4 linked regions of the Homo sapiens genome follow. The protein of the gene in region 3 interacts with the protein of the main gene of each other region in a pairwise test. Each region holds a gene or a part of one and is shown on either strand. Other genes may lie near its edges.

What was found.
Region 1: the proteins of SP4 (region 3) and PELI2 interact in binary tests that used the Homo sapiens proteins (3 or more experiments, as listed by UniProt).
Region 2: the proteins of SP4 (region 3) and LMO3 interact in binary tests that used the Homo sapiens proteins (3 or more experiments, as listed by UniProt).
Region 4: the proteins of SP4 (region 3) and BANP interact in binary tests that used the Homo sapiens proteins (3 or more experiments, as listed by UniProt).

Annotation. Positions count from the first base shown.
Region 1 is NC_000014.9:56,113,642-56,121,418, forward strand, and holds the start of PELI2 (E3 ubiquitin-protein ligase pellino homolog 2), read left to right. Parts: upstream 1-4,769; 5' UTR 4,770-5,019; coding exon 5,020-5,096; intron 5,097-6,094; exon of another isoform or gene 6,095-6,221; intron 6,222-7,777. UniProt on the Homo sapiens protein: E3 ubiquitin ligase catalyzing the covalent attachment of ubiquitin moieties onto substrate proteins. Involved in the TLR and IL-1 signaling pathways via interaction with the complex containing IRAK kinases and TRAF6.
Region 2 is NC_000012.12:16,596,012-16,603,224, reverse strand, and holds part of LMO3 (LIM domain only protein 3), read left to right. Parts: intron 1-2,356; coding exon of another isoform or gene 2,357-2,364; coding exon 2,365-2,570; intron 2,571-4,257; coding exon of another isoform or gene 4,258-4,330; exon of another isoform or gene 4,331-4,433; intron 4,434-7,213.
Region 3 is NC_000007.14:21,423,315-21,431,180, reverse strand, and holds the start of SP4 (transcription factor Sp4), read right to left. Parts: upstream 3,099-7,866; 5' UTR 2,930-3,098; coding exon 2,923-2,929; intron 2,505-2,922; coding exon 2,389-2,504; exon of another isoform or gene 2,278-2,388; intron 1,893-2,277; coding exon 338-1,892; intron 261-337; coding exon of another isoform or gene 250-260; exon of another isoform or gene 1-249. UniProt on the Homo sapiens protein: Binds to GT and GC boxes promoters elements. Probable transcriptional activator.
Region 4 is NC_000016.10:88,031,411-88,038,623, reverse strand, and holds part of BANP (protein BANP), read right to left. Parts: intron 5,516-7,213; coding exon 5,379-5,515; intron 3,302-5,378; coding exon 3,230-3,301; intron 652-3,229; coding exon 613-651; intron 1-612. UniProt on the Homo sapiens protein: Controls V(D)J recombination during T-cell development by repressing T-cell receptor (TCR) beta enhancer function. Binds to scaffold/matrix attachment region beta (S/MARbeta), an ATC-rich DNA sequence located upstream of the TCR beta enhancer.

The sequences.
Region 1 (7,777 bases), on a different chromosome or scaffold from region 3:
AATTGCCAACAGATATAGCAAAAGATACCCAGTGTCACTAATCATCAGGAAATGCAAATCAAAATCACAATGAAATATCATCTCATATCTATTAGGATGGCCACTATAACAAAACAAAGCAGAAAATAACAAGCGTTGGCAAGCATGTGGAGAAATTTGAATCTTTGTGTATTGTAGATGGGAATGTAAAATGGTGTAGCTGCTATGGATAACAGTATAGGGGTTCCTAAAAAAATTAAAAATAGAGCTAACGTATCATCCAGCAATTCTAATTCAATGTATTTATCCAAAACTATTAAAATCGGGAACTCAAAGAGATGTTTGTACTCTCATGTTCATTGCAGCATTATTCACAGGAGCCAATCTAAATGTCTATTAACAGATTAATGGATAAGGAAAATGTATATGCTTACAATGAAATATTATTCAGCCATTAAAAGAAGGAAATCCTGTCATATGCTATCATATGGGTAAATCTGGAGGCCATTATGCTATGTAAAATAAACTAGTCATGGAAGGACAAATGACTACATGATTTACTTATACGAAGTATCTCAAAAAATCAAACTCGTCAAAGCAGAAAGTAGTATAGTGGGTGCCAGGGGCAAGGGGAAGGAGAAATGGTGAGCTGCTGTTCAATGGGTATAAAGATTCAGTCACGTAAGATGAAAAGGTTCTAGAGATGTGCTGTAGAACAATGTTCTTACAATTAACATGCTGTACTGTGCACTTAATAATCTGTTAAGGGGGTAGGTCTCATGTTATGTGGGTTTTTTTCCCACAATAGGAAAAAGTCAATGTATCTTACAATAGCAAATCATGAAAATGCAAATAAAAAATTATCACCCATTAAATTAGTAAGGATTTTAAAATGCTGGTGGGAGTTTCCTGAGGCAGCCTCTCACATACTGCTAGTTACAGTATAAACTGGCAGTCACAACCTTCTGAAAAATGGTTTGGAAATATGCATGAAAGGGTCTTAAAAATATTTGTACCCTTTAATATAATAATTTTACCTATAGAAATATGTCTTCATGAAGTAATAACAAATGTAAACATGTTTATTATTTATAAGAGCAAAAATTAGAAACCACCTACATATTCCATAGGAGGGGAATGGTTAATAAATGTTGATACTTATAATGAAACAACAAAAATATTTTTGAAGTTTTAGTTACAAGAGAAAACTTCTGACAATACAATATTAAATTAAAAAGGCAGGATACACTTTAGAGAGGGTGATTACACATATGTCAAAAAATTAAAAATAAAAAATGAAGGAAATACACAAAAATGATAAATAGGGTTTTTTCTGGGTAATGAGATTATAGGTGATTTAAGACAATTTTTGAATCCTTTTTTTCGTATTTCTAAAACTTTTGACAAAGAGCTTATATTATTCTCAATCAGAAAACTACAAGAAGATAACAGCTTAAAAATGAAATGTAATCTAAAGTTGCATGAAAAAATATACTGTATCTTGCTCGGTTTGTCCAAACATATTCTTGAAAGTGTCTACTTGCTCTTTAGTCTTTCCAAACATAAACATGTAAGGTAGAATGTAGAATGACCAAAAATTAGATGCTTCATTCTAGAAATACTGAAAGGTATTTGACTGACTTTAGGTATGTTTAAAACAAACATACACTTTTTCACTAAATCTTTTGATTTTAACAAAACAGGAAGACACAATTGGGGAAAAGTCAAGATAAAGCCTTACATTATTTATTTGTATAGTAAGCATATGGCCTCTGGTAGCCCAAGAAATAGCACAGACTCCCTCTGGGATGATGTGGGCGGGTCATCCTCTTCAAGAGAGTGGTCTGGGGTGAGGGACATAAATGGAATGGCAAGCAGAGAGAGCAGGGAAGGGTCTGCCCTGGCAATCAAGTCAGCCAAGCCCACCCTGGCTCTTAGTGGGTTGGCAGATGGCACAGCCAGATTGTCCCACCAGCCTGGAGCAACTCACTAAAACAATTACATTCAAGAGAGGATAAATCCATGCTACAATCAGATTCTTAATATTAACTGGGGATGATGGGGTCATGTCCTAATTGGTTTAAGTTGTGAGCAAATAACTCTGATAAGAGATGCACAGAGAAAGTCACACGCTGGCTTCTTTAGGAACACAAGCCATCAACGCTCTGAGAAAATCAAGTTAACACCCCTCACCACTCTGCCATCCCCCCAGCCCTACCATTTGATACCATTTGAGAAGTGTTTTTACCTTTACTCATGTCTGTTTCCTTGAAATCAGAGAAAGCAACTGTGGGGACCTTGGGTACATAGAGTCTAGAAAAACAGACATAGTTTTGATGGGCTCATGCTGTGTTTCAAGAAAATTGAAAGTGTGAATGAGTTGCCAACAGTTAAAAATTGAGAGGTTTGGTGTAATCAGGATTTGAGGCTTTTAGAAAAATTACATCTAGCAAGAGTGAACTGTCATTGTCACATGGCAACAATCAGCTAGAGATGAGTGACAGATAAGCCCTGTAGACGGCACAGACCCTACCAATGTGCCACAGTCCTCACTCAGCCCATTTGCTCATTTGGATTTCCATGCCTGGTCCCTGTATGTATTCTTGACTGTGATCAATAGAATTGCTCTTACCAGTCAGAAGCTTTCAGGGCTCAGAGTGATTCACAGAGCTGATCTAGCCTTGAGCTGCCTAGGATAAAAAGCCTCCATTGACACAAAAACTCATTCACAACAACACTTCCTGTAAGTCAGTCTGATAAAGACAGACCTGATTAAGTACTATAAACATTCTCAAAGACATGTTGGGAGAGTAGAGAGACATGTCCCTCTGGAAGTCAGGGGTGCCACAGGCAGATAGCTAGACGGGGGGGCCTTGGAAGATTGGGATATCCTATGGGAAACTCTCAGCCTAGTGCTGGGAACTTAGTAGGAGGTTAATACATATTTCTTTCTATCTTCCTAAGAGCAGATGCGAAGCACAGCAAGGAGGAAATGCAGCCAGAACAGTATAATGCAATGCAACGCACACAGGCACAGCAGGCCAAGAGAGAAGGAAGGAGGTAATGGTAGCCTAGAGAGCAGAAGCAGCAACAGAGGAGGCCTAGAGAAGCTAGGGTGACAGAGGCAGGCATCATCGTAATCGTGACGGCGCAACTGCAGAATGATTCTGACAGATCTTTGATAGTCATACAATCTATGTGGTAAGTAGATGCACAGAGTACATGAAGACAACATTAATCCAGCAGAAATTTGAAAGAAATTTACATCAACACTGGGGAGGAGACATGATTTATCCCTTTAGTGAAGGAGTGCTGGTTAAAACTGTAACAGATTTTTTATTACATATAAAAAATATAGAGAATACGTAATATATGCAGAATAACTAATATTCATTTGAAATACAGAATTTCTATAGTTAGCTGAAATAAGTTAACTGTTTAATAAAGTTTATTTTTGGCTTACCAGTGGTGTGGCTTTAGTTACTTTGGAATAATTTATTTCTAAAACCTCAATTAAAAAAATCAGTTCCTAACTGAAGTAAAATTATCAGAAACATCATGTCACTACCGTAATAACCTGTCAGAGAATGTTACACAAGGGGTGCAGCACAGCGGAATGGAAGGTTACAGATGCAATTATTATTTTTTCTAGCCCTTTGCTTCGGGTCATAGCCAACCAGTCACTATACACAGGGTAGCTTCTGCAGTATTTATTTCTTTAAATATTTAACAGTGTTGAGAGGCAATGACTCGCAATAATATGTAGAGTTTCTAGCACATTATGAGTGCTTAATAAATGTTAGAACAATAAAATCCTGTATGATGAAAAACAGCAGTCAGTAAAACTATACAGTCTACGATATTTTAAAGCCATAGCAATAACTAGTTTAAAAAGAATAGAAAGCAAACAGTGCATTGATTAAATCACGGTCATAAAGGAACATTTACGTTCACTAAAAAGTCCACCCAGGTAATTTCCCCTTGTATGTATTAGGGGATGGAAAGAAGGCACAGGAAAAGTGGATAAAGTATGGATTAAAAAACAACTCTTCCCCCATCCCCCCGCCACCCCCCAAAAGCCAGGTGGAGCTCTATTGACCACAAGCCGGGGTAGCTACATCCAGTGCAACGGTGGGGTGCTCCAAGCGCCTTCGAAACGTCCTCTACGCCAGCACCAACTGGCAAAACCTTCTAATTTTCTAGACGCCTTTCTGCTTGGTTTTGGAAGGGGAGGCACCCAAGTGGGTGTGTGCGACACCTCTAGTTGTAAGCCGGGACACAGTGACGTCGAGAGAGCGCTATTCTACTCGGAGAGGAAGTTAATCCCATCGAACTCCAGCCAGGAAAACGTGGGCTTGGGAACCGCGGCCGCTCGTTTCCAGGATCTCCCGCGGGCCTTCGCGGCTGAAGAACCAGGCGGCGAGGGCTGAGGACCCCGCGCTCTAAGTTTGGGGAAGGAAGTGAGGAAAAAAAACAGAGCTGCTCCTTTAAGAACTTCCTTTCCCTTTTACTCTATGTTTACATAACACAGGGGCCGAGCCTCCGCCGGGCCGAGGGGGGCGGGGAGTGGGCGCGGACGGCCCCACGCGCCGGGGGAGGGGGCGCCCCGCGGGCCGGGGGCGGGCGCCTGGCTCTGCGTGGGGCGGGGCGGCTCCCACCTGCCCGCGCGCTGGCCCCCGCCTCCCCCGCGCGGCCCCAGCCTCTCGTGCGCCCGCTCCCTCCTCCTTCCCTCCCTCCCGCGGGGCTTCGGCGGCGGCGCTCAGCGCAGGCAGGTCCCCCTGCTGCCGGGTCCCATTTGTTGCCGGCTCTGACTCGGGGCGGCCGCGGCGCGCGGAGCTCCGGGGAGTCAGGCGGAGCAGCCGCGCAGCCACGACGGAGCAGCAGCGGGACTGGCCGCCCCGCGCCCCCTTCGCCGCCGTGCCCTTCCCCGGCGCGCTCACCCCGTTCTCGGGATGGGATTGTAGCGGCGGCGCGGACTCGGCGGGGATCGCGGCGGAGGCGGCGGCGTCGGCGGCGGCGTCGGCGGCCGAGCGGGGCTCCATGTTTTCCCCTGGCCAGGAGGAACACTGCGCCCCCAATAAGGAGCCAGTGAAATACGGGGAGCTGGTGGTGCTCGGGTGAGTCCTGGGGTCCCTGGTCCCGGGCAGCGGCGCGGGCGGGGAGCGCCCGCATCCTGGAGCGGGGCTGGCGGGGTGGCTCGGTGCTCTTTGGGGACCGCCGGGGCGCTCGGGGCGGCAGGAGAGGCTCTCAGGGCCCGGACGGCGGCGCGGGGGCGGGATGCGCCCCATCGGCGCGCGCTCGGGGTGCTGCGGCGGACGCCGGGCTGCGCTGTCCGCGCGGAGGACGCGGCGGAGGAAGTGGCCAGAACTCGGGCGACCCAGCGGGGGCAGCGCCGGGCACCGGGTCCGCGGCCGTATCGTGGGGGCGGGGGCAGGGGCTCCACTTCCCGCGCGCCGCGTCCGGGCCGGGGAGGGCGGGCAGGGACTCCATGTGAGGCGCCGCGGTCGCGGGCGCTTCGCGGGGTCGCTTCCCGAAGCTGAGAGGCCGGCCGGCGCGGAGCCCCGTCTTCCCACCTCCCTCGCGGACCGTGGTACCCGCGCCCCCGAACTCCGAGCGCGGCGCCGTGAGCTTGGGCCGCCGCGGGCTGTGGGATCCCCGGCTGCGCTTTGCAAATTGTTCCGATGACCGCCGCGGGCCGCCGCAGCCCGAGAGCAGTGAACTGTGTGTGACCCGGGCCGGCCGGCCCTCCGCTTCTCCCCGCTTGGAGTGCTCTGGAGGGGAGGGACAGGATGCGGCTGCTCGGGGCCTGGCACCGGGGCGCGGGCCGTATCCCCCCGGTCCCGGCCTCGCTGATGCCCTCCCGGCTGCGGGGAGCTCGCCAGCCTCGCCCGCCTCGGCTCCCTCTCTGCTGGTGAAAGCCGCATCTTGAAGATAGTAATTATGTACAATCGTTAAACGGCAGCAATTAGAGACTTCATCTACTTCCTGAGTTTCCTTGTGACATTTCTATTGTTTACCCTTAATAAGCCAGGAGAGAGGCTTTGCGGGCTTAAAACTGGATATAGTGGGCAGTGAAAGGGGAGGGGGAAGGGGGAAGTGCAGGAAACTGGGGGGAAGGAACAACTTGGGTTTAGTGTTGAAGAAAGGATTATTTTTTCCTTTGGATGTGTCGCTCTGGGAACCCGCGCTTTTGTCCTTCTGCGTTGAAAGACCTGTATTCAGAACATCCTCGGCGCTGATAGGTAGGCTTAGCACACATATGAGGAGTCATGGCTGTGGGAAGACTCAGGGAACTTTGCAAAACGTGTTTTGATAAGTGAGTGCCTTGAAGTAAGTGCTGACTTAAAAATAATTTAAAGAGAGGAGTTTTTGAGGGAAGCTTCCAGACACCGCACAACTCAAAGCTTCCCAGTCTTCCTGACTTTGTTGCTAGTGCATTAAGTGGGGGTGGTATTGGAAATCTCATTACCTATTTTGAAGCTGTTTGCAGATAAGTGTTTTTCTCACCTACATCTTAATTGCACTTCAAAGACAAATATCAGGGTTCACAGGAAGGCGGGAGGAATGACAGGAGAAAAGCCGCAGTTTAGTCTGTCTTATGTAACTTCAGCCCAACCTAATCTTGTGGAGTTTGGTTTTGTTTGTGTGGCTGGCTTCAGTGTGTTTAACACTGTGAACTTGACGCGGAAGATTAACGTATGCCAGAACTTTATTTCATTATTTCCTTTTGAGGAAATCATTGTTGAGATGTTTCAGAAAAGCAGCGAGTGGGCCTGGAGAGGTTTTGTGTTCATAGCTGGAAGTGCAGGGCATTCCGAAGCCACGGAAAGGATTGAAACCCTGGATTGTCCTAGTATCATAGTCTCACTCCACAGGAGCCCGGGATATAACGTTGCAGTTGCATATGGTCTGCCCTTTGCTAATGCTTTTCCAGGAGACCAAAGTATGACATAGTTGGCACTTAGGGGGCGAGACACTCAACCGTCGTTTGTGTACCTACTCTGTGCCTGTGCTGTTTAGGCATTGCTGATGCAGTGAGAACAGGGAACTTTCCTTTTAGAGTGGAGTGACAGGCATAAACAGAAAGAAACATGCAAATAGAGGAGTAATAAGTGACAATTTCAGGTGCAGCCAAGTTCTGAAGAGGAGTTGATAAACTTGGAGAGTGACTGCTTAGGTGGGTATTGGTTTCTTCGGCTGGAAGGTGAGGGAAGTTCTCTCTGAGGAGGTGAAATGTGAGTAGAGGATGCTAGTCTGGTTTTTGAATACTTGAATTGTGGTATTTTTCTTTTTTCGAGGGTAGGTTTCTGACTGTTTACCAATGTTGAACACATTGAAGAGTGCAGGTGAAAGAGTGACTAGGTAGGAAGATTTTTAGAGAGAACCTTATTCATATTCCACCCTTAGGATTTGAGACAGTGTACTTCATCTTAAAACAACAATAACATTCACATAGAATTAATATCATCTTTATGATATTATCTTTATGTCCTCTGGGGTATAAATATTGGAAAACAGAAAATTTCAAGTAGATTTTCTGAATAATGAGATGATTCCTGAGATCTAAAAATGCCTAATATTTGGTATTGATAGAAGCTTTGCTTGTCAAATTCAGTGCTTTTTTTTTTTTTAATGGTTATGTGACTGTCCTTTTTGCTCACTTTCGAATGTCATAGTGAAACATTACTAGGAAATCCTGGAGAGCAGAATGAAGAGCTGATAGATGTCTATATCCATATCTAAATACTTCTATATCTTTTTGTGTGTTACACAGTATTATTAAGAGATTCCACATAGC
Region 2 (7,213 bases), on a different chromosome or scaffold from region 3:
CAGAATGTAAGAGTTTCAAATATTAATTGGCCTCTGAGTGCTAAATTAAAATGTCAACACAACAAAAACATTTTGTGAAGACAAGTAGGGTAGTGTTACTTGTGCCAAATGTTGGTATCCCCTGTCTTGGTTGCAAAGCATTTTGAATAAAACAGCTGACCTTCTATGCTTGATGGTAGAAACACAACTGTGGGAAATATAACTTAGCTGCTACTGGGATTTTTTTTTTTTTCGATTTTTCATCTTTGAGCTTTGTGATAAATAAAAATAATAGCCTTACAAATTTAATAGAATGGCCGTTAATTAGGATGGCTTAATTAGAATGGCTTCTCTTAATATTTATTATCTAGGTGTTTTCAGTAACACCATCCAGAATTTCACTGAGTAAATCAAAACTTCCCCTTCCCCCTAGATATGTGGTTAACAGGCACTTGGATCTGTTGTTCACTGTAATTAATGGGATTCACTCCTTGTGGAACCTTGCTAGAAGAGGATAACTAGTTCTGATCAAAGAAACTTCATTTGTTAGAAGTTCTAGAGAGTGAGATTTAGCAGAGCTATCAAGGGTTATGATTAATCTACACTAGGCCCTTAGCTCCTTCAAAGGAAAGGAACAGAAAGCAGGCTATAGGGATACCACCTGCTCTTCTTACAAATCCAGCTGTTAGTCTGCAGCTCCGGTGACTACAGCTATGCTTATGATGCAGAAAGAAAGAACAGCTACTCTGCTTTATTTCCTGCCATTCCCTACACAACTCTACCAGACGAGTTATTTTCTAATGAAAGTTCAACATCCTAACAATATTTTGTGCAACTCATGTATTATTTGTAGTTAGAAAAGTTATTCCGCTCTGCGGATGCCTTGATGTCTCTTACCAGTGGGATTTTTTTTTTAAAAGGTTGTGAAAGTTGTGATGGGGGTGAAGCCTTCATCATAAGATATCAGAGGAAACTGGAGGAGGTTTAGCTGTTTTGGAGAAGGAAAATGTACAAAAGTGCAGATTATAGCTTGACATTTCTTATCCTATAATGCATGCACATTTGGTGTTTTGTATCCTTCTACATGCAAGTTTAAAACTTTATGCCTAGGAGAGCAAACATAATGCAGCAGAAGGGTCTCTGGACTGTAAGAAGGCCATTTGGCTGGAGTCTATAGCGTAACTGTCTTTCAGCTTTGAGCAAGTCTCTGAACCTCTCTTGGGCCTCGGTAACATAATTTGTAAAATGAGGGAATTTGGAATTGATGATGTCTGCAGTACTTTATAGTGCTTAAAATGAGTTATTTGATAAATATGAGGCATTGGATAGTTGGTCCAGCTTCTTGCTAAAGCTGGGTGTTTTAATACCTAGGAAATAAGAAGACACTCAAGGTGAATGTCCATTCATTCAAAAGATTTCAATCAAACTGTAAAGCCCATGGAATCCAGCTGGATTCCTTATTTATGATGGATTTATACCTTTAAAATATATAAATGTTTCTATGTTTAGCATAGTATACATATAACATGTATATATTTACTTATATATGTTTGTATAATTGTATATATATTTAGATCTTGCCTTCTATTGTTTTTTCTTTCCTTTATAAAACAAATAATTGCATGTTTATGGTAATAAATGGTATAATCATATACTTTAGGTTTACATAAAAGCATATAGTATATAGTTAAGTAATCTGCCATTAATATAGGTGCTGACTGATGCTTGTGAGTATAAATGTTATATTTGAACACAATGAATACTTTGAAATATCAAGGACATAGAAGAAGTATTTGGATGCAAGCAAGAAATATAGGATTGGTGAGCTTTTTGGGTAGCTGTTCTGTGTACTTAACTATAAACACCTCTACTGCTGAATAAGGTTAGTGTAACCCCATACCAGGTGCCCTCTCCTTCCACCATCAAGCACATATTAAGTGAAATTTTTAAACAGTTAAGCAAAACTCATTTTTTTACTTGTAGGGACTGTGCATAGATTAATTTGTTAAATAGCTTTCTTTTCAGATTGTTATTTACTCACATTTTCTTTCTAAAGGAACTGCTCTATGGGGAGAATGAAGATACTATAAAATTATTTAATGTTATTGAACTTCATATTTATAATGTCAATTTACCATGGTCAACATGAATTTATTATTATTGTCACTTGGCATGTGTAACTTTTTGAATGATTTAATAAGCACTTGATAAAGTTTGAGACTTTTTGTTTCCAAAATTGGGTTTGATTTCAGTATAGCCCTAAACAAGAAAAGCTAACACTCCTAGAATAAGGAAATATTAAATATTTAACTTGTTTGAGGTCTTTTTATTCTGTCTGGTAGTCTCAGCTCTCTTTTTTGCTTTTGTCTTCCTTTAGGTATACAAATGCTCTCAGTCCAGCCAGACACCAAGCCGAAAGGTTGTGCTGGCTGCAACCGAAAGATCAAGGACCGGTATCTTCTAAAGGCACTGGACAAATACTGGCATGAAGACTGCCTGAAGTGTGCCTGCTGTGACTGTCGCTTGGGAGAGGTGGGCTCCACCCTGTACACTAAAGCTAATCTTATCCTTTGTCGCAGAGACTATCTGAGGTAGGAATTATCCTTGCACACCAGTGATGACTGGATGCCTTTTAAAGTACTTTTGTAAGTGTATTTTTTGTTTGCTTGTTTCATTTCCTTACTGCCAGCTTATATTCCTGAAAGAAGTTACCTGTCAGCCTTCAAAGCGTTGCCCTGTGTGTGTTACTCAAATTAATGCTTAAGGAATAGCCAACAAACCACAATATTTAAAGTATTTCAATTTGGCTTGCCTGCACACTCAGGCAGTTGGTTATGGCGCTGCCTATGTTGAAACTGCCAGTTAATGTCAAGGATGTATTTGGTCGAAATCAGCATTCAGGTTGATTTACTTATTTTTTCTTTTTTTTCTTTTTTTTTTTTTTTTTTTTTTTTGGAGCTTAAGGGGGAATGGGGGTTGAGCATAACACAAAGAAATTGATCAGCCATTTGGCAAAATATCTTAACTATTTTTAAAAAGTTCAACTTGAAAAAAATGGACTGTGTAAAAGAGTTTAATTGTTGCCTCTAAGTTGGACCTGAATTTAGTCTTCTAAAGTTATTCAGCTGTCTTCTCTGTTTCAGGTGTGTCAGAGGAAGTCAGGTGCAAATCCTTGGTTAATATCTATTAGTGCATTTATTGTAGAGTTTTGAAAACTTTCCCCAAGTGTAGATACATCTTCCTCTCGCCCCACCTCATGACATTCTAAACGGGAATCTCAAAAATACAACTAAGCAATTGAACCGCCTCAGACTTGCCAGTAGTTTTATGGATAATAACAAAGTAAAGACCTCCATCATTATAGGAAAATGACAGCCACTCTCCAACCTGTAAACATCTGAATGCTTTCAGGACAAGGCAGGTGTTCTTGGTTATGGAGCTATGAAGCCTACTAAAGCTTGTTTTCCAGCATTAAGTACTCAACACAGAATTTCTGCTGAAGGAAAATTATTTTGCTTTTCAGGCAACTTTGTGACTTACTTCAGCTGCAAATTACTTATATTAATAAAGTAGGATCTATCAAATTAGAGAAATGATATATGGCATCATTGGGATTTTCATATTTAATACAATTTATCATTTTTCTGGTCTGACATTAAGCGATTTATTTGGAATTTTTTCCCTTATGACAAAATTTATCAATCAATGGTAACTCCTTTAGTACCTTGGTCATTTGATGAGGTGTTTTCTAGGGAATTTGGTCGTTCTTAGTATATAATTCAGCTATTTTCAGTCAGATCCAATCTTTAGATATAAAAATATATCATTTGATTAATGGTAGTTACAAGAGGGTGAAAGCGGTACTGTTTATCAGATTCTACTCCTTCTCGCTCTTAGGACGGCCTCATCTGACAGCCTCCTGACTAATTATGGCCACTTGTTACTACTTCTCTGTGTTCCAAGTGCGTAAAACACATGCAAGGTGCCAACAATGAGAAGTCACTCTCTCCAGCCAGGATTTCCCTCATTGTGTTGGCACAACGAATCAAAATTAATGTACAATGTTCATTTTTTTAGAACTCTCCGGTCTTTGAACTTTCCTCTTTGAAATAAAAATTTCTCTTCTGCCCATTGTGAATTAGAGCCTCATTTCCACATAAAGCATTTGTATTTGCTTTTAGTGATTTAATACTGCTTTTTAGTTTTGCTTTATCTGTACTAACCAATAGTCATAGCTTTTTGACTCCTTTTGACTTTTACATTTGTTTGTAATTTCAGTATCTCAAGTGGATTTATGTTACCATTTCAAATAAGGAGTTTATATAGCCCGGGCAATGTTAAGGTGTTTTAATAAACCAAAGGACAAAAATTAAGTAAACTTGAAAGAATGTCAACTGAAATATCTGGGGTTTTTGAAAACAAAAATAAAAATTTGCCAAGGAAATACCTATATTGTGAGTATAACATGCTTCTTAGCTGTCAACATAGCATCGAGCAAAGACAGTAATCTTAGATTTGTTTTGTTTTCTTTTTCCTTGTGGTAGTAAAAATATATTTGATAGTCTCAAGTGTTTTGCTAAAACGCATTTATCAAAAATAGTTTTCATATCAGAAGTTTTTGTATCTCTATAAGAGTGTATGTGGCTTTTTGTAGAATAACTTTCAGTTACCTCCTGATAGGCTCAAACTTTTAATGGTGGTTAACTTATTAAAAGTATATAATATTCTTTCAAATATAAACCCTGGTCCTGATTGCCAATATATTCATTTCTCAGAGTACGATTTCCGCTTAAATTGGTCATTACCACATTAATGGCCAGTTGTTATGTTAACAGCCTAACGGTTGTTAACATTTCAAACTAAGTTGTTAACAGCAATCTTGTCCCTTATTTAAACTGAAAGTTTGTTGTATATAATGTGACTTATTTGGCAACTTCATCAACACTTAAAATTGCAGAAGTGAAGTGGAGAATTGGTGTGTGTAAAACACTGTGTTACGTGTTATAGATTATGCCGCAGATGTGGTATTTAGTTTTATGTGGAAAGCATGTGTCTCAGTGAAATTGTGTAGATGTTCAACTGCATATGTCTCTGATTGGCAAATTAAAATAGTCTGATTCTGTATGGTAAATCAACAAATATAGTCAAGCAGATTTTATTTACAAATTAATTTCTTTGATTAGATACAAATAGTTGTTCAAAAATGTTTATTAAATGCTTACTGTGTGAGAGGTATGATTTCAGGCAATGGGTGAAATTAGCTAAAGGAAAAAGGAAGGTACACCTAAAGTTGCCACTATCTAATTGTTTATTTAATTACATAGAATCTGTAATATAATCAGTGAACAAGTAATATTCTGTGGTTATTTTCCTGAGCTTTAAAAGTAATTTTTCTCATTTTCCTCCAAATTCAGCATACTTCCATTTTGTATTTTATATAACCAATGTTTAATCACTTAAGTTCTATTTTAAAAGTTGTTTTATTTTTGGCCCTTTGATATTATGTAATTTCTCTGAGGCACCAAACTGAACATAAATAACTTACATATTTATATTTCATGTCTAAATTATTAAGAACATAAGTAAGAATAAGGAAAGTAATAAAATAGTAATTTGCCTGTCCACATATATTGTTGGTTACAAGTATTGTCCTGGGCCAGATAATTTTTTACATACAGTGAAAAGTAAAATATTTTTGCCAATTACATTTAGCTTCTTAATACACTTCTCCCTCCATAAACAGAAAGAAAGAAACACTCCTAATTATGAGCAATGAGACTTAAAGATCTGTGTTTTACTTGTGTTACTTTGAGTAGTGATAATGATGATGTGATTTATAAGTTCTTTGAATGATGATTTGAGATATTAAATAATATGAAAATATAATAATTTAGACTGTAAGATATTTTCTTAAGGGTTATAGAAACTATTATTATGGAAAATTTGATGTCTTTCCATTTTTTTTCTCCTTTATGGCACTAGTAGCTATATTTAAGAGAAAAAGAAAGAAAAATCTTCCATAGTTTGTACACTAAGTATCAAATCTTAACAGTGGAATTTTTCACTTTCCAGAACTGGACTGGCATATCATTCATTTAGCTGTGGAACATAAAATGTACATATCTGATGAGACAGAATTTGCCCATTTGTGGGATTGCTTTCCTCCTTTGGAAACTCATTAGCTAAAGAAAGAGAAGGACTGACTTTTTAAAACTTCCTCTAACATGTTTCTGACTGAAATTATGAAATCTACCCAGTCAATATTTATATGCCAGGCAGACCAAGAAATGTATCTGTTAAAAATCTATCCAATGCATTTATAATTATTTTTATTTTTTTGAAGAGTAACTTATGACAAATTAGATATAGAAACATCTTTGTACTTTAAGTTGGAGCTTAAAATTGATATTGTCTAAAGTAGATTAAAAATGACTGTGTAAAAATAGCAAAGTTGTAGTGATAATGTTTAAGGTACTCATCACTGCGATCTATCCGCCTTATTTCAGTTTGAAAAAATATGAATAAAGTAGCCAGCCAGTGCATAATCAGAGTCTTAGAATTAGGAATTCTACATGCTTTTATTTAATGTTTTGCAGCAAGCATTAAATAGAACTAGGAGAAATACCAAAATACTTTCTTTTTCAACTTGAAGGCAATAAAGGATGTCAGAATGTAACTGGAACTCAACTTCTGGGCAATTTTTTTGTTGTTCTTTCTTTGAACCTGCAACTTTTTGTGACGTACTTTAAGCATTAAGTCTATATAGGCTGTATGTATCTTGTATCTCTATGAATGATATCTTGCCAGAGTTTATTCAAAGCTGTTTGCTGTGGTATGTGCCATGGAAGCTGCTTATAGCTTTTCCTATATAAGAAGCTGTAAAATGTCTTATATAAAATTTAATGCAATTTGCTATTTTTATACGTGAGGATGATTTGTTTAAAATGAAACTACTGGGAAAGAGTGATGCTTCATGCTTCACCATAGTTGCTAATTAACTAAAATGATTTGAAGCTTGCTATGCTGACTACAAATTTTATAGGCTTTAATATAATAATATAATAACTCTAAAAGAGAAAATAAAAATAAATTGCCACATAGGGCATAAATCTAGCTGTAACTTTATCTCACGCTGATCAAACCTGGTGCTTCTAAATTTTTATGTAAGGTCAGCTTTATATTGGTACATAATTATAAGTGTAAAGGTAAATAGGAATATGTTGTTAATATTATT
Region 3 (7,866 bases):
TTCGACTAGGGTTCTTTCTGAAGAGCTGGAATGTACTCAAATAAGACCACTAAATTACAGAAGGCAATTATGATTCTAATCAGAAAGCTCTGTCCCATAAAACAATACTTTTTAAAAAACTAACAAATTTAACACATTATTATAAAATCTACAAAAGTGAACATGTCACATTGATTACTACAGAGCTATGTTTGTTAGTATAATATTGCTATTTCTGGTTCCTTATGATTGTGTGTTTACTTCAGAGGTCTACGTCAAACCTTAGAATTAGGAGAGAAAAGCAATAATTGTTATGAAAAACTATTTAAAAGGTACTTAAAAAGATGTCAGAACTTACCTGCAACACTAGTGATTGTAACGGGAACTCCCTGCACTTGAACACCTGCAGCACCCAGGTTGGCAACGCTCACTGTCTGAAGGTTAGGCACTGATGCAAGCTGGGCAGTATTCAAAGTTATTGGGGCACCAGCAACAGCCACAGGAGCAATCTGAGCAAGAGTTGTGCCACCACTTGAAGACACTGGGGTGATGGTTAATTGTTGGGATAACCCAGCATTCTGAACTTGCAAATTTGAAAGACTCTGAATATTCTGAACCTGTACAGTTTGCCAACTGATTTGCCCTGAAGGTGTTAAAGTTGGAGCCCTGATAAGCACCTGAGTCGGATTTACTGCTTGAAGTTGAACATTCTGTAAAGGCTGCTGCTGGATGGTCTGAATCGTCTGCCCTGACTGGAGTTGAAACGACTGTGGTGGAATAGCCTGAATGATCTGTTGCTGAGGCTGTTGGATCTGGATCTGCTGTAAGATAGGTTGGCCTACAATTTGCACCTGCTGAAGAGAATTTGATTGATCCTGTGCATTCTGCATTCCATTAGGCTGAAGCTGACTGGAGCTCTGGGCTTCAGACTCAGTAGCAGCAGGTGTTTGAGATTCTTCAATGGTGCGTTCAGAACTACTGGCTGATGTGCTTGCATACTGGCCAGTATCTGCTGAGCTCACTAATGTGTCACTGCTTGTCAAAGACGTTGAAGCAGTGGTTGTGCAGGTAGTGGAGGAGGAGGGAGATTCTGGCATAGTACTGGCAGAAGTAGTGGTGTTGGTGGGTGTGGAAACTAATTGATTCCCATTGGAAGTCCCACTATCAGCAGTAGCAGCAGGCTGGCCAACCTGCCCAGTCCCTCCTCCGGCAGCCACGTTGTTTATCACTGGCAAAGCTAGAGTCACTCCTCCAATGTTAATTGGTAGGGTTGTTACAACTTGAGCCTGAGTACCAGGAAGAGTCTGTAACTGCAGTGGTATTGAAACACCAGGTCTAATTTGGACCGGAACTGTCTGATTTGCCAGGTTTTGAGCAAGAATATTCCCAGAAGCTGTCCTGTTAGCAGCTGTGAGTATAGCTTGATTATTACCTGCAGAAATGAGCTGAATTTGACCCTGCAAATCCTGTAGAGATGAACTACTAGTTGGATTGATTTGAATTTGTTGACCTTCCACTGTCTGAAGTTGTGGAATTACTTGGTACTGTACACTACCACTTGGATTTTGTACTTGTATGACTTGAAATTGACCAGGGGTGGAAGAATTACCTGATTTAGTTTTTGTAGGAGATGCACTCCCGTTATTACTGCTGGAAGAACTAGACGAACTAGAGGCTGGTTGAGAAACGTTATTCTCTTTTGAAGCAGGAGGAGTGGAGGCAACAAGTTGCCAAGCGTTTCCAGCAAGTTGCGTTGTTACCAGTTCTAGCTGTTGTGGTTGATTTTGAAGTTGCACCAATCCTTGACTTGGATCTATAATAATTTGTTGTTGTCCAGTTGCTTGATTTTCACCAGGAGTCCCTATTTTGCTGCAAGTAGCTGCCAGTAAAGCCAGAGGAGAGGGCTGAGAGTCCTACCCAAAATGGGACGGTAAAGGAGAGGGGGGGGGGAAAAAAAGTGGGCGGATTTAGTGGAGGCCAGTAGTTGCCAGGGGGTTACTTATTTTGACAGCTCTACATAACAATTTAGGAAGCAGCAGAAATCAAAAAGAAATACGAACAAAAGTAGATAAGAACTATATGAATAAGGAAGCAAGTCCTATAATATCAAGTTTAAATAAAAGGAAATTTCTTTACAACTTTGTAAAGTGTTATGTTCCTAAACTCAAAATGCCCTTGGGAACACACACACCGTTTTCTTATAGTCTGAATTCCTGATGTAATTTTAAACAGCGTTATACCCTCAAAGAGGTGAAAACTTGATGAATTTACAATTTAAGTTCCACACTCTCAGAAAGATGCTTTGAGTGGATAAACATTTTATTCTGTTACTTCTGGACATTCAAAGGGCATAACTCCCTCTCTCTCCTAATGTGTCGTGATGAATTTTTTTAATTTGTTTGCTTTTACCTGGGAGCCTGAGGTTTTGGGTTTTTTATTGTTATTCTCTGGCTCAGAGGTTTTCCCTCCTTCTGTAGCCATCGCCGCTGCCGCTGCCGCCTCCTCCTCCTCCTCCTTCTTCTGATCTGCAACAAACCCCCCCACCACACACACACGACAACAGGTTATTAGGATTATTATTATTCGTCTTCTTCCTCTCCTCTTCTCCCCCCTCCCCCCGAACATTAATCTCCATAAACCCGCGATCCACGCACACCGGCAGGGGGTGGGGGAGAAGGAGGGAAGGGAGGAGGGGGATATCACAAAACGTGGTTTGAAACCCGACCCATCGGCTCCAGAGCAACACCCAGAAGGAGGTTGTTCTCTCTCAGACATTAAGACAAAACACAACCCTCCTTCCCTCCCCGATTCCCTCCCGCCCTCTCCTCCTCCCCTTAAAGCATCTCAGCGGCCCCGGGGGAGGGGGGAGAACCGAGCAGGGTCTGGGGAGGGAGGGAGAGAGGGAGGCGGCGAAGGAGACTGAGGGGGGTGGAGAATACGTACCGCTCATCCCGCATTAACAGGACAAACCCTCAGACGGAGACACTGGGATAGAGGTGGGTGGGGGTGGGGGCGAGGCGGGAGGAGAGGCCGGTCCCGCCCGCCCGCGGTGGCTCGGAGGAGGCTGTAGCTGGCACAGGCTCTGCCTCTTTTTCCGCGAATGGCCGCCGCTGGGCTGTGGCGTAGCAGCTCCTCTCTCCGCCCGAGCCCGGCTGACTCGCCCTTGATTGACAGCGGCGGCGCGCGGCGCGGGCGGCGGCGCGGGTCGGGGGCGGGGCCAGGGCGGTGCGAGCCTGGCCGACTCCCCACCCCCCTCGGCCTCTCTCCGCCGGAGCCTCCGACTCTCCACCCCTTCCCCCAGCGGATTGGCCGCCGACCTGCCGGGGGCCGGGGCGCTGGGGCCGCCTCCTCTCCACCCCCTTTCTCGGGGTTATTCCTTTAGCAGCTCTTCTCCTCCTCCCTGGCTCCTCTGGCGCTCTTTCTCTCGGCGTTCTAGCTCAGGAGCGCTGCCGGTAGGCCCTCCATACAGCCAAACTTGTTGTCTCAGGATATCCCGCCCCCTACTCATTTCCCAGCGCCCTCCACTCAAAAACCCCCTCCAGCAATCCCTCCAATTGCCACTAAAGAAAAAAGTAGGGCCCTTGATCCAGGCAAGCGAGAGCGGCGGACGTGGGCGCGCGCGGACCACCAACAGGTCGGCGCGCTGGGTGAACTGCCCGCTGCCCCCGCGCAGGGAGCATGGCTTTCCTGAGGCGCATCCGGACCCGGGCGCCCTTTTTCCCTGGCTCTGTCTCCATTGGCTGAGCCCAGGGTGACGCGCGCTGAGTGGTGGGAGAAAGGGGGTGGGGCACTACCGCGAAGGCTGTCGGTACTCGTAGTTTCCGGCGGTCGCGGTGCCTTCTTCGAGGCACCGCCTCTCTCCCGCCCCCGACCGAGGCCTGGCTGCCGAGCGGAAAGCTGCCCGAGGGGGCGGTGGCGGCAGGGCGTGGCCGGGGCCGAGTGGGAGTTGAACTGAGCGAGGAGGAGGGGGAATGGGTGTTGTTTGCCTGGGCCTATCCGCCGCGCGGGGCTGCCCAAACCACCTCTGCCGCCGCCTCCTCGGCTCCAAGCCGCTCCCCGCGGGGCGAGCTCACACCCGGAGCGCTCGGCGATTGAGCGGGCGGCGGCGTGGGGAGGCGGGGTTTGCTGTCCTCGGGGTTTGAATGAACCCGGCTTCTTGAAGCAGCGCCCTCGCCTTGCCTTTCTTTGCTCACCTTCCCCTCAGGCCCCCTGCTTTGAGTCCGAGGCCTGTTTTCTCACGGAGAAGGATCTTCCATTTTTATTTGTTGTCTCTCTGGCTGGCAGCTGGTGCAGAGCAGTGACCCGCCTTCTAAGAAGGGTTGCATCGCGTTTTGCCTAAAAGCCTAAGTGGTTGGCGGAGTTCTAAGCCTTATCTGACAAGAGTCTCCGGGCGAAGAAAAGCCCAGCTCCATAAGGGTCAGCCCCGCTTACGGTGTAGCGTAAGCAAGCGTAAGGGCAAGTGGAATTAACATCTGGCTGCACAAAGCATCTTACTGTCAAATGCACTTGAGCAGTGTCCTGCCTCAGCTTTCCTACAAAGTCCTGAAGTCAGGATGATGCCATGGAACGTAATCAGCGCCTGATTAACTGTACCAAAGGTGGAAGTGACCCCACATGTAAATACTGGCCTTGGGAACAAGGCATGCTTACACCCCAGGCTCAAAGCCATTGTCTCACTTCTTACCTGGGCTTCACACTCAGCCTTGGGCATTTTTGTCTCCTGCCTGAGGCCTGACATGTTGCAATGGTGAGGAGGTCCCAGATGCTGAACTTGACTGGCATTTCCTTTGCTTGTTAAGGTAATTGCAAAATCAGCTGATGACAAAGCCATGCAGCAAGACAAAGCAATTCGAATAAAGAATTACATGGTATTGTCTACCCCATCTTATACAATGAGCCAGAGATCCCTGAACAACGTGCTTTTTCCCCATCGTGTACAATATAGAAAGCTCAAAAGTGCTTCTTACATTTACGTATATACTGTCTCTATCCTCAGGTCCCCTCCTCCTCCCAGTTCACCAAGATAAATGAAGACATTTTGCAGTCTTATGAATTGGGGCTTTCATTGTCGTTTTCGTTTGGAAAACCTGCTTCAGAGAGGCAATGTCACTGACTCTGAACCATAGATTAAAAATAATGCTTCGGGAGGCCGAGGCGGGTGGATCAGGGGGTCAGGAGTTTGCGACCAGTCTGGCCAACATAGTGAAACCTTGTCTCTACTAAAAATACAAAAAATTAGCCAGGTGTGGTGGTGTGCGCCTGTAATCCCAGCTACTCGCGAGGCTGAGGCAGGAGAATCGCGTGAACCCGGGAGGTGGAGGTTGCAGTGAGCTGAGATCACGCCATTGCACTCCAACCCCGGGCGACAGTGCAAGACTCCGTCTCAAAAAATATATAATAATAATAATAATGCTTACCATCAGTATGAATCTGCAAAGTCCTAAATATTCTCCACCCTATAGATAAGTGGGAATACTGGTATCCATGAAACATAAGTCCTGCTTTTTATGGTGGACCAAAGTCTTCTAGTCCCTGGCTGTTATGGACTGAATGTTTGTGTTCTCTGCCCCCTTCCCCATTCATGTGTTGAAATTCTACACGGGGCGCGGCTCACTCCTGTTATCCCAGCTCTTTGGGAGGCCAAGGCGGGCGGATCACTTGAGCCCAGCAGTTCCAGACCAGTTTAGGCAACATGGTGAAACCCAGGCTCTACAAAAATTAGCCGACGTGGTGGCGCTGTCCTGTAGTCCCAGCTTCTTGTGAGGCTGAGGCGGGAGGATCACTTGAGCCCAGAAGGCGGAGGTTGCATTGGGCCAAGATGGCACCAGTGCACTCCAACCTGGGCAACAGAGTGGGACTGTGTCAAAAAAAAAAAAAAAAAAAAGAAAGAAAAAAAAAGGGAGAGAGGGGAAAGGGAGGGAGGAAGGAAGGAAGGAAAAATTCTACCCCTTAGTGTGATGGTATTAGAAATTAGAAGGTAGGGTCTCTGGGAGATAATTAGGATTAAATTTGGAGTCCTCATGAATGAGATTGGTGACCTTAGAAGAATCAGGAAAGAGCTTGCTTTTCCTTCCTCTGCTCTCTTCTATTTGAAGATAACAACCAAAAGTCCTCAGTGTGATACCCGGTGGAAAGCGAGTTTTGCTAGGGAGGTAATATTGACAAAGACTCTCTCCTTTGACCAAACTTTAATCTGGTTATTCTAAGTCCTCTTTCTGACTAGGTCCTGACCTGGAACTCTGTCCTTAGTTTAGTGGCTTTGTTCATTTAGTCCAGTTTTAGCAAGAATCCTGCTGGGTTGGTTGGGTAAAAACGCCTCACCCTTAATATTTGACCATACTTGGTATCTCATCAAATTCCTTATCCCCTGTTCTCGATATCTTAGCACCCTGGCCTGCCTTCAGCAATAACCCCATTAAATTGGTTTAGCCAGAATCCTCCTTTATTCTGGAAATTTCCCCTTAGTAATTTTCCATCCACTGACTCCATCCTGCTCCTTGGCTTCAGATCTCTAGTTGTCTTTGTATTCATAGTTGAGCCCAATCTCTCTCTCCCACTGCAAGACCCCATTGGATAGTCTCTCCTTGACTAAAGTCTTTATTGCTGTCTTTAACAAGTATCCTGAATTATTTTTTTCTTCAACATTGTAAATATAAATTCAACAAAATACTCGGCCTCAGGCCTGCGAGGGTGGTCTTTTCCCTGAGGAAGCAGTCTAAAAACATTCCTTCCTATGCTCATTATTGCCTAGAAAACAGTGGCTTTCAAACTTTTAAAAAAATTATGACCCACAGAAATAAATATATTTTACATCATGGCTGGCCCAGTGTGTACTTTTTAAAAATTTATGACCCTGGGCCAGGCGCGGTGGCTTATGCCTGTAATCCCGGCACTTTGGGAGCCCAAGGTGGGCAAATCGCTTGAGTTCAGGAGTTCAAGACTAGCCTGGGTGAATCACTTGAGGTCAGGAGTTAAAGACCAGCCTGGCCAACATAGTGAAGTCCCATCTCTACTAAAAATACAAAAATTAGCCAGCCGTGGTGGCAAGTGCCTCGGGAGGCTGAGGCAGGAGAATCCCTTGAACCTGGGAGTCAGGGGCTGCAGTGAGCCGGGTGCTATAGTGAGCCGGGTGCTATAGTGAGCCGAGATCATGCCACTGCACTCCAGCCTGGGCGACAGAACAAGACTCCGTCTCAAAAAATAAAAAAAGGAATAAGTATATTTTACATATGGCCCAGTGTGTACACACACAGAGGAAATCAGCATTTGTATGTGAAATATTTAATGACACTAAGCACTGACCATTCAGCTCAAACACGTCCATAAAGCTGAAATAGTGTCCTAGAGGTAGAAGTCCTCTGCCACGAATTATCCTTGTAGTTGTGGAATTGAGAGATCCAGAGGGTTGGGGAACAATGAGGGGACTTGCCAAGGAGGGGACTTGGACACTAGTTCATGGCATAAATGAGAAAAAGGGACTGTATTTGAGTGTCTCTTTTAGGAAGTTTCTTTTTTTTTTTTTTTTTTGAGACGAAGTCTTGTTCTTGTTCCCCAGGCTGGAGTGCAATGGTGTGATCTTGGCTCACTGCAACCTCCGCCTCCCAGGTTCAAGTGATTCTCCTGCCTCAGTCTCCCAAGTAGCTGGGATTATAGGTGGCTGCCACCATGCCTGGCTAATTTTTGTGTTTTTAGAGAGATGGGGTTTCACCATGTTGGTCAGGCTGGTCTCGATCTCCTGACCTCACGTGATCCACCAGCTTCGGCCTCCCGAAGTGCTGAGATTACAGGTGTGAGCCACTGCCCCCAGCCAGGAAGCTACTCTTTAAATAACTGTTAAGCTGCTTCATTTTTTTTTTCTTTTTTTTTTTTTCCTAGCACCCTCCGAAA
Region 4 (7,213 bases), on a different chromosome or scaffold from region 3:
AGGATTAGAAAGCTGGCAAGTTTGTGAGTTTGACGGCAATACACAGGAGCGAAACCACCTTTTTCTAACAGAGTTATCTGTGCAAACATGACCACCATCAACATACGCATGCGTGTGCAGAAAATAACCATCTGAAGGGGGTGGGGTGGCGGGGGTGGGAGGGCACGTTTCCGCCATAGCGCAAAAGCTGCTGAAATCCTACGGAGCAGCAAATGTAACCCCCAAGCCCTGCCCTCCCCCCTTCCAGGCCTGTGCATTGTCATGGTGAGGAAAGCCAGTCCTGCTCTGGGGCTCACACTGAGAGGCCTTTGCACCCTCGCTCCCTCCCGCGAGAGCCCCCATTCCTTGGCAGCACCATGGCCTGTATGTGAGAGGGGGACTGTGGCACTCACCTGACCATCCGCCCCCTTCCCATGAGAGCCCCACCCCTCGGCAGCGCAATGCCCACAATGACCGTCCCACCCCTCCCGTGAGAGCCCCACCCCTCGGCAGCGCAATGCCCACATGTACATGGGGACCAGGGCACTCACCTGACCGTCCCACCCCCTCCCCTGAGAACCCCATCCCTCGGCAGCGCAACGCCCGCATGTGCATGGGGACTGGGACACTCACCTGACCGTCCTGCCCCACGTGATGGATCTGGAGGTTGCCCTACAAAGAACGAGAGGAGGAGACGGTCATGAGTAGAAACACACCAAGACACCCTCAGACACGGCAAACACGCCAAGACACATCACAGGCCACTTGAGAATAACAAGAAAACCCCAGTTCTGCAAAAATTCAACCTCCAGTAGCAACAAAAGCCCCAAAACAAAATATTGACATTTCTAGGTACTATTTATTATTTTAAAGATGAACAAACAACTCAAAAAGCATTGTACTCATTCCCCTACCCTGACCCCAAATGAAAATGTCATTTTTACTTCATTTTTTATTTTGAAAGAATCTGACTCACAAAAAGTACAGAAAGTAGCAGAGAGACGTCCTATGTGTGTGTCGCCCAGCTTCCCCGAAGGGGGACGCCTTGCTGAGCTGTGCGGCATCACCACGCCAGGTCACGGGCTGCACGCAAGGAACCAACTCACTCAACCACAGAGCTACTAAGAGCTCTCCAGTTAGAAATTCATTTTCATTTGTTGTAAAAAGGAACTGTGTTGTCTGTCAGACCCTGCTAAATGTTTATTTGCAGATATCCTGTTTTAACAAAATAATTTTAAATGAACACGGTATGAATGTATGGTGACGAGACTGCATACTGTCACTCATCACAAAGCCATCGTTAGTATTATTAGCAATTTCTAACTTACTGCATTCAATTCCTATTGAAAACGAAAGACAATCACCTATACAAGATGGATTCAGTTTTGAAAACTGATGGATAAAACTAATAATAAAAAATTGAAATTCGAGTAGTCAAGATTTTTTTAGCATAAACTATAAAAAGCAAATGTGTGTTGTTTTTTTTCTTTTGCTGCTGTTTCAATTTTCCTGCATTTTCAATGACTCTAAGGAAATTAAGCATTCTGACGAACTTCATAGGCTTCCAGGTATTCAAGAACTCTGGCTGAGCTCTTTGGCAGTGAGCTTAGCCTCCCAGCCCACATCTGTCTGTGCCTTGAGAAGCAAACCTTCCCCTGCCCCTCAAAGGCAGCTCCTGCACTGGAAGGTGCTGCTGGGATCCTGCACCTCGCAGCCACTCAGGCCCCCAACTCCTGCACCTGACCTCGCTGAGCTGACAGGCGCATCTCCTGACATCTCCAAGGAGATGGTCCCTGACCCACCCACAGACACAGAACAGGGAAGGCCCTGCTCCTTCCTGGACACTCTGGCCTCCTGGGACCGTCCCCTACCTGCTCCCCGCCCTGCTGCTTCCTTCCATCCATCCATCTGACCACGTTTCTTAGTGACCTGGTCATGTCGCTGTGTGGATGAGCCCACTCATTCCCAGTCGCTCACGGCCCCCACATGAATTCGTTCCTCCCCTTTCACCTCATCCTCATTCCGCCCTCAGAACCCTTACGCATGTGCTCCCCTCTCAGGATAACCCACCGGGAACTGCTGGTGTCCAAATTAAAGCCACTGCCAGCAGACACGCCCGAGTCCCTGGTGCTCCACGTGCCACGGCGTGCATGTGTCCACAGTCTTGCTCACGGGCACTTGGGCAGGAGGCTCTGCGCCCGCTGTGAGTCCCCGATGGCAGGGCTTCTCTCTCCTCTGCTCCCCCACAGCACCTGCACCCAGCATGAGCTCCCAGGAGGCCTCGCACGCCAACATCTCCATGAGTCCCCTTGACCTCAGCACCCGGGCTTCCTAGTCTCTGCTGCTGGTGTGTGTGGGGAAGCCTGAGATCTTTGCAGCGACACACTACTATGCACCAAACACAAAGCTGGTGCCATTGTCACGACCTAGAAACAGCCATGTTCCTCATCCCCCAGAGCGCACCACGGTCACTGAGTACAACACGTGTGTGCTGCTTAGTGCCCTGTGCCTGCTGCTGCCTGTGCTGCAGGAAACAGCCCAGAGTCGAAGGACGGTCACCCGGGAGACAGTCCTGCTCTGGCATGCAAACATGGAGCATCGCAACAGGCTGGCCTCGGCTTTCCAAGAACTCAGACTGTCACTGCCGCCTTCACATTCCAGACCCCAACAGCAGCTGAGCCCGCACTTCTGAGTGCGTGGCCGGGTAGAGCTCCAGAAACTGAGACAATCACAGACCCAGCAGGTGCGTCAAGGGCTATGAGCAGCTCTCAGGACTGGCAGCATCACCTTGTGGGATTCCCCACCATCCCATGAAATCGGCACTAATCCCGTAGAGGCCACTAGGAAGCTGGGGCCACATGGCAGGTGAGGGGGTATGTCAGGTCACCTACGCAGGGGCAGACCCCATCTCGGCCACACTGGGGGCCTCCCCTGGCAGGAAGGGCAGGGCCAGACAGGGAGAGAAGGGTACTCAGAGGGCACTTCCAGCCAGCAGTAGAAACATCTACCCAGGAGATCTTTACCAAGACAGACCAGAAGCTGTGGAGACCAACGGACAGGAGGGGGAGGCAGAGAGGCCACAGAGACTGCAGGCCCGCTATGTGCACCCTGGAAGCGGAGTCCTGCAGCCCTTGCCCACGTTCCCTGTCCTGGGGGCTCCCTGCTGCCCTCGCACTGTGACACCGATGAAGGTCGGGAGCATGTGGGCACGGTGCCTGCAGGGACAGTGCTGCAGCGAGAGCTGACTCACCTCGCTGTCCTGCGTGATCTGGACTTGCTCCCCCTGCGGCACCTGGGCGATGTGGAGGTGTCCCTGTGGGATCCGCAGCAAGAAAAGACACCAAGAAGCATCAGAAGAAAATCAAAAGCAAAGGAAACAAGAAACATCTTCCGGAATGTTTGTTCTTGATTATCTGTTTACAATTCAAAAAGATAACTAAATCCTGAATAGTGCAATATAGTCTGTGGTCACTTCTTTAAATTAAGCTTTTGGTTCACAGTAGTCCCCCTCATCCATGAGGGTTTCAAGAAGCACCCCCTACCCCCACCACGTGGACGCCAGAAACTGTGGATGGTGCTGAACCCCATATATGCTATGCTTTTTCCCGCCCATATGTGCCACACAGCTTGGACATGCTGGACAAAGGAACGACTCACGTCCCGGGCTGGACAGAGCAGGACGACCAGACTTCATCATGCTACTACTCAGAAGAGTATGTAATCTGAAACTTACAAATTGTTTATTTCTGGAGTTTCTCATCTAATATTTTCAGATCACAGTTGACTATGGGTAATTAAAGCCTGGGAAAGTGGAAGCATGGGTAAGGGGGGGCTGCTGTGTAACACAGAACATTTTCCAGCACTTCACAAAGGAGCAATAGGTCCCAGGAAAGATATTTACATCTTTAAATGTTACTAAACAAGTAAATTTTAAAATGTGCATGACACACAGAAAAGAGGGGAAATAGAAAATCACAATGACACCTCTTTTCAAATGATACGTTCAGCTCTCTGGGGATACTGGGAGGCTACGCAGTGTGTGGCTGAAGCAGGGGAGCTGTTGGCGTGCCTACACTCACAACAGGGCAGGCAACGTTTTTCAAATCAAAGAAACACTCATATGACTATTTAGACAGTTTCAGTAAACACTAATAAATGTGATTCAAAAAAAATCAAAGAATCCACTGTTTATACATATGGGCAGACAAATAATTCCTATAAACCTGTAAATGAAACGAATACTCCTTATCTTATTTGAAATTCTCTCTTAGTCGAAATGGATCTTAAAATAAACTCCTGTAGAATGTTCTATGTAAGCCTTATGACAAAGTTATCTACTCTGGAACGCTTTCAAAGAACTTCTTACTAACAAGATGAGAGGAACTGCCGTTGTGAATGTCAAACAAATTAATAAGCTTATTAAATAAGATTCACTATTCATAACTGTCTCATCTCCTTTGGAAGAGGAAGGGTAACGCCCCCTCTAAAAGCCCCAGAATTTTCCGGAAGCCTTCCCTCTTCCAGACAGCATGCTGAAGCCACACTGAGATGAGAGCCACGCCCCACTCTCAATAGTGGAGGACCATGTTTCCAGGAGAAAGCCCTGGTGACACGGAGGCACACGATGACCTGTCTTCAGAGGGCCCAAGGGGGCTGGTGCCACTAAAAACATAGGCGAGGTCTAGTGGTGCATGTAAAATTTCTAGTCACTCAGCAAAGCTTCCAGAAAAGTCTTCCTTCCTTCTCAGCCACGCCCTACTCTCATGCCACAGAATCCAGGAGGTGTTTGTAGAGGGACTTCACCCGGGAGCAAGCCCCTAGGCGCATCAGGCTGACCACAGCTTGGGTCACAAAACCCCAATAGAGAACTCCGCACGGGCAAGGCAGGACATTGACTTGCTGCTGGGACAGTGCCCGCCCAACCTGGGTGTGCTGAGTAACTCCAAGGGACACGCTGCATGGGAACAATGACCTCAAGCTTTTGCCACTGATCCTAGAAGGAAATTACTCTTTCCCTCAGTAAGAGAGCGCCTGCACTTCTGAACTGAGAAATATTTCCGATGTTTCCCAGGAGCACGAGCTGGGGCAGGGACCACCGCACGGCCTGACCCTTGGAGCTGACTGCCCGCCTGCCTGCTGGCAGGACTGAGGTGAGCTGACTGAATGCCCCACCCCACCATGTGCTTCAATCCCTAGGCTCTGCAGCAGCCGCCCCCACCTGTGAAATGTTAAGAGCTCATGGCCACGATGACCTCTACTTTAAATGGGGACCTTGTGCCTCCTCCCAAGCTATCACTGTGCTCCCAAAACACAGCGGAACCGGTGGAAGCCGCCATGGCCCTGCCGTGGCCCACCCCGCAGCCCCCTTTCCCAAGGTGTGAGGTGGAGAGGGTACGTACTACTTGCACCTGTCCGTCTTCTCCGATCTGGTGGATCTGCACCTGCTGTGCGTTGGCCAGCGCGTAGTGCAGGGCCTGCGGCTGCGGCTGTGGCTGCGGGAGCTCGCTGGCAGGAGGTGGGGTGCTCATCATCGGCTCTGTGGGGGCAACAGGTGTGAACGGGGTGAACGAGAAGTTTCTTAGGCATTGCCTGGTGTGGCATGTGTGCACCCCCGTCCCCCACTGTCGACTCCCACAGCAGAGAAGAGGAAATGCTTCATTTTTCCTCGACTCACTGCATCTCCACTCTTCTGCAGAGATCACTACCAGTGAGTCTTAGGAACTGAGGCTTCCGACATGGAATGCAAAAGGGCCTGAGAGTGGCGTGATGCTGCTATGACAAAACCCCTTCTAGTCCCCAACTTATTTAAATGAATGAAGTTCTTAAAGTGGACATTAAAAGCTGTTTCAGGCTGGCAATATTTGTCCATGGGTAATTAAACTAATAGAGCAAAAGTCTCATCCGCACACTTAAAGATACATTTCCAACAAATTTTACTTGCTGTGTTTAATCAAAATGAGATACATTTGCTTTGATGTACTGTGTATTAATTTTCACTGTAATGATGTCTCAATCATAATTTTCTTAAACTCTCAGAATATTAAGAGCGCAGAAAAACTTTTTAATTTTCAATGTATACACGTAGTTTTGTTGCAGAGAATTATAATGACTAATTTTAAAAAGCTTTTAAGCATAAAAATGTAGTCCGGACACGGTGGCTCACACCTGTAATCCCAGCACTCTGTGAGGCCAAGGCAGGTAGATCACCTGAGGTCACGAGTTCAAGACCAGCCTGGCCAACATGGTGAAACCCCATCTCTACTAAAAATACAAAAATTAGACAGGCGTGGTGGTGGGGGTCTGTAATCCCAGGCACTCAGGAGGCTGAGGCAGGAGAATCACTTGAACCTGGGAGGCGGAGGTTGTAATGAGTCGAAATGGCACCACTACACTCCAGCCTGGGCAACAGAGCGAGACTCCATCTCGGGGGTACAGGGGAGGGAAGCAGTAAGATGAAATTCTGTGAGAGAAGTAGAATGTTGATATGAATGAAAGGAGAAAAATGAAAGACATAAAATTATTGATTATTAAAGAGAAGCGGGCCAGGCGCGGTGGCTCACGCCTGTAATCCCAGCACTTTGGGAGGCCAAGGCGGGCAAGATCACTTCAGGTCAGGAGTTCGAGACCAGCCTGACCAACATGGTGAACCCCGTCTCTACTAAAAATACAAAAATTAGCCAGGTGTGGTGGCACGCGTCTGTAGTCCCAACTACTTGGGAGGCTGAAGTAGGAGAACCACTTGAACCTGGGAGTAGGTGGTTACAGTGAGCTGAGATGGCACCATGGCACTCAGCTCCAGGCAACAGAGCGAGCGGGGGAAGGGACGGGGAGGGGCAAGAGAGGGGAGGGCAAGAGCGGGGGAGGGGAGAGAAAAGCTTTCCATGTATTTTTTACCAATAGCTAATGGTAGGTATTAAATTGCCATAGTACCTAGATTCCACTGAATACATTTTTTAAAGTAACAATAAAATGTTGGGTTTCTTTTTTTTTTTTTTTGAGAGAGAGTCTTGCTCTGTCACCCAGGCTGGAGTGTAGTGGTATGACCTTGGCTCACTGCAACTTCCGCCTCCCAAGTTCAAGCGATTCTCCTGCCTCAGCCTTCCAAGTAGCTGGGATTACAGGCACCCACCATCATGCTGGGCTAATTTTTTTTTGTATTTTTTTGTAGAGAAGGGATTTCACCAGGTTGGCCAGGCTGGTTTTGAACTCCTGACCTCAAATGATCCGCCTGCCT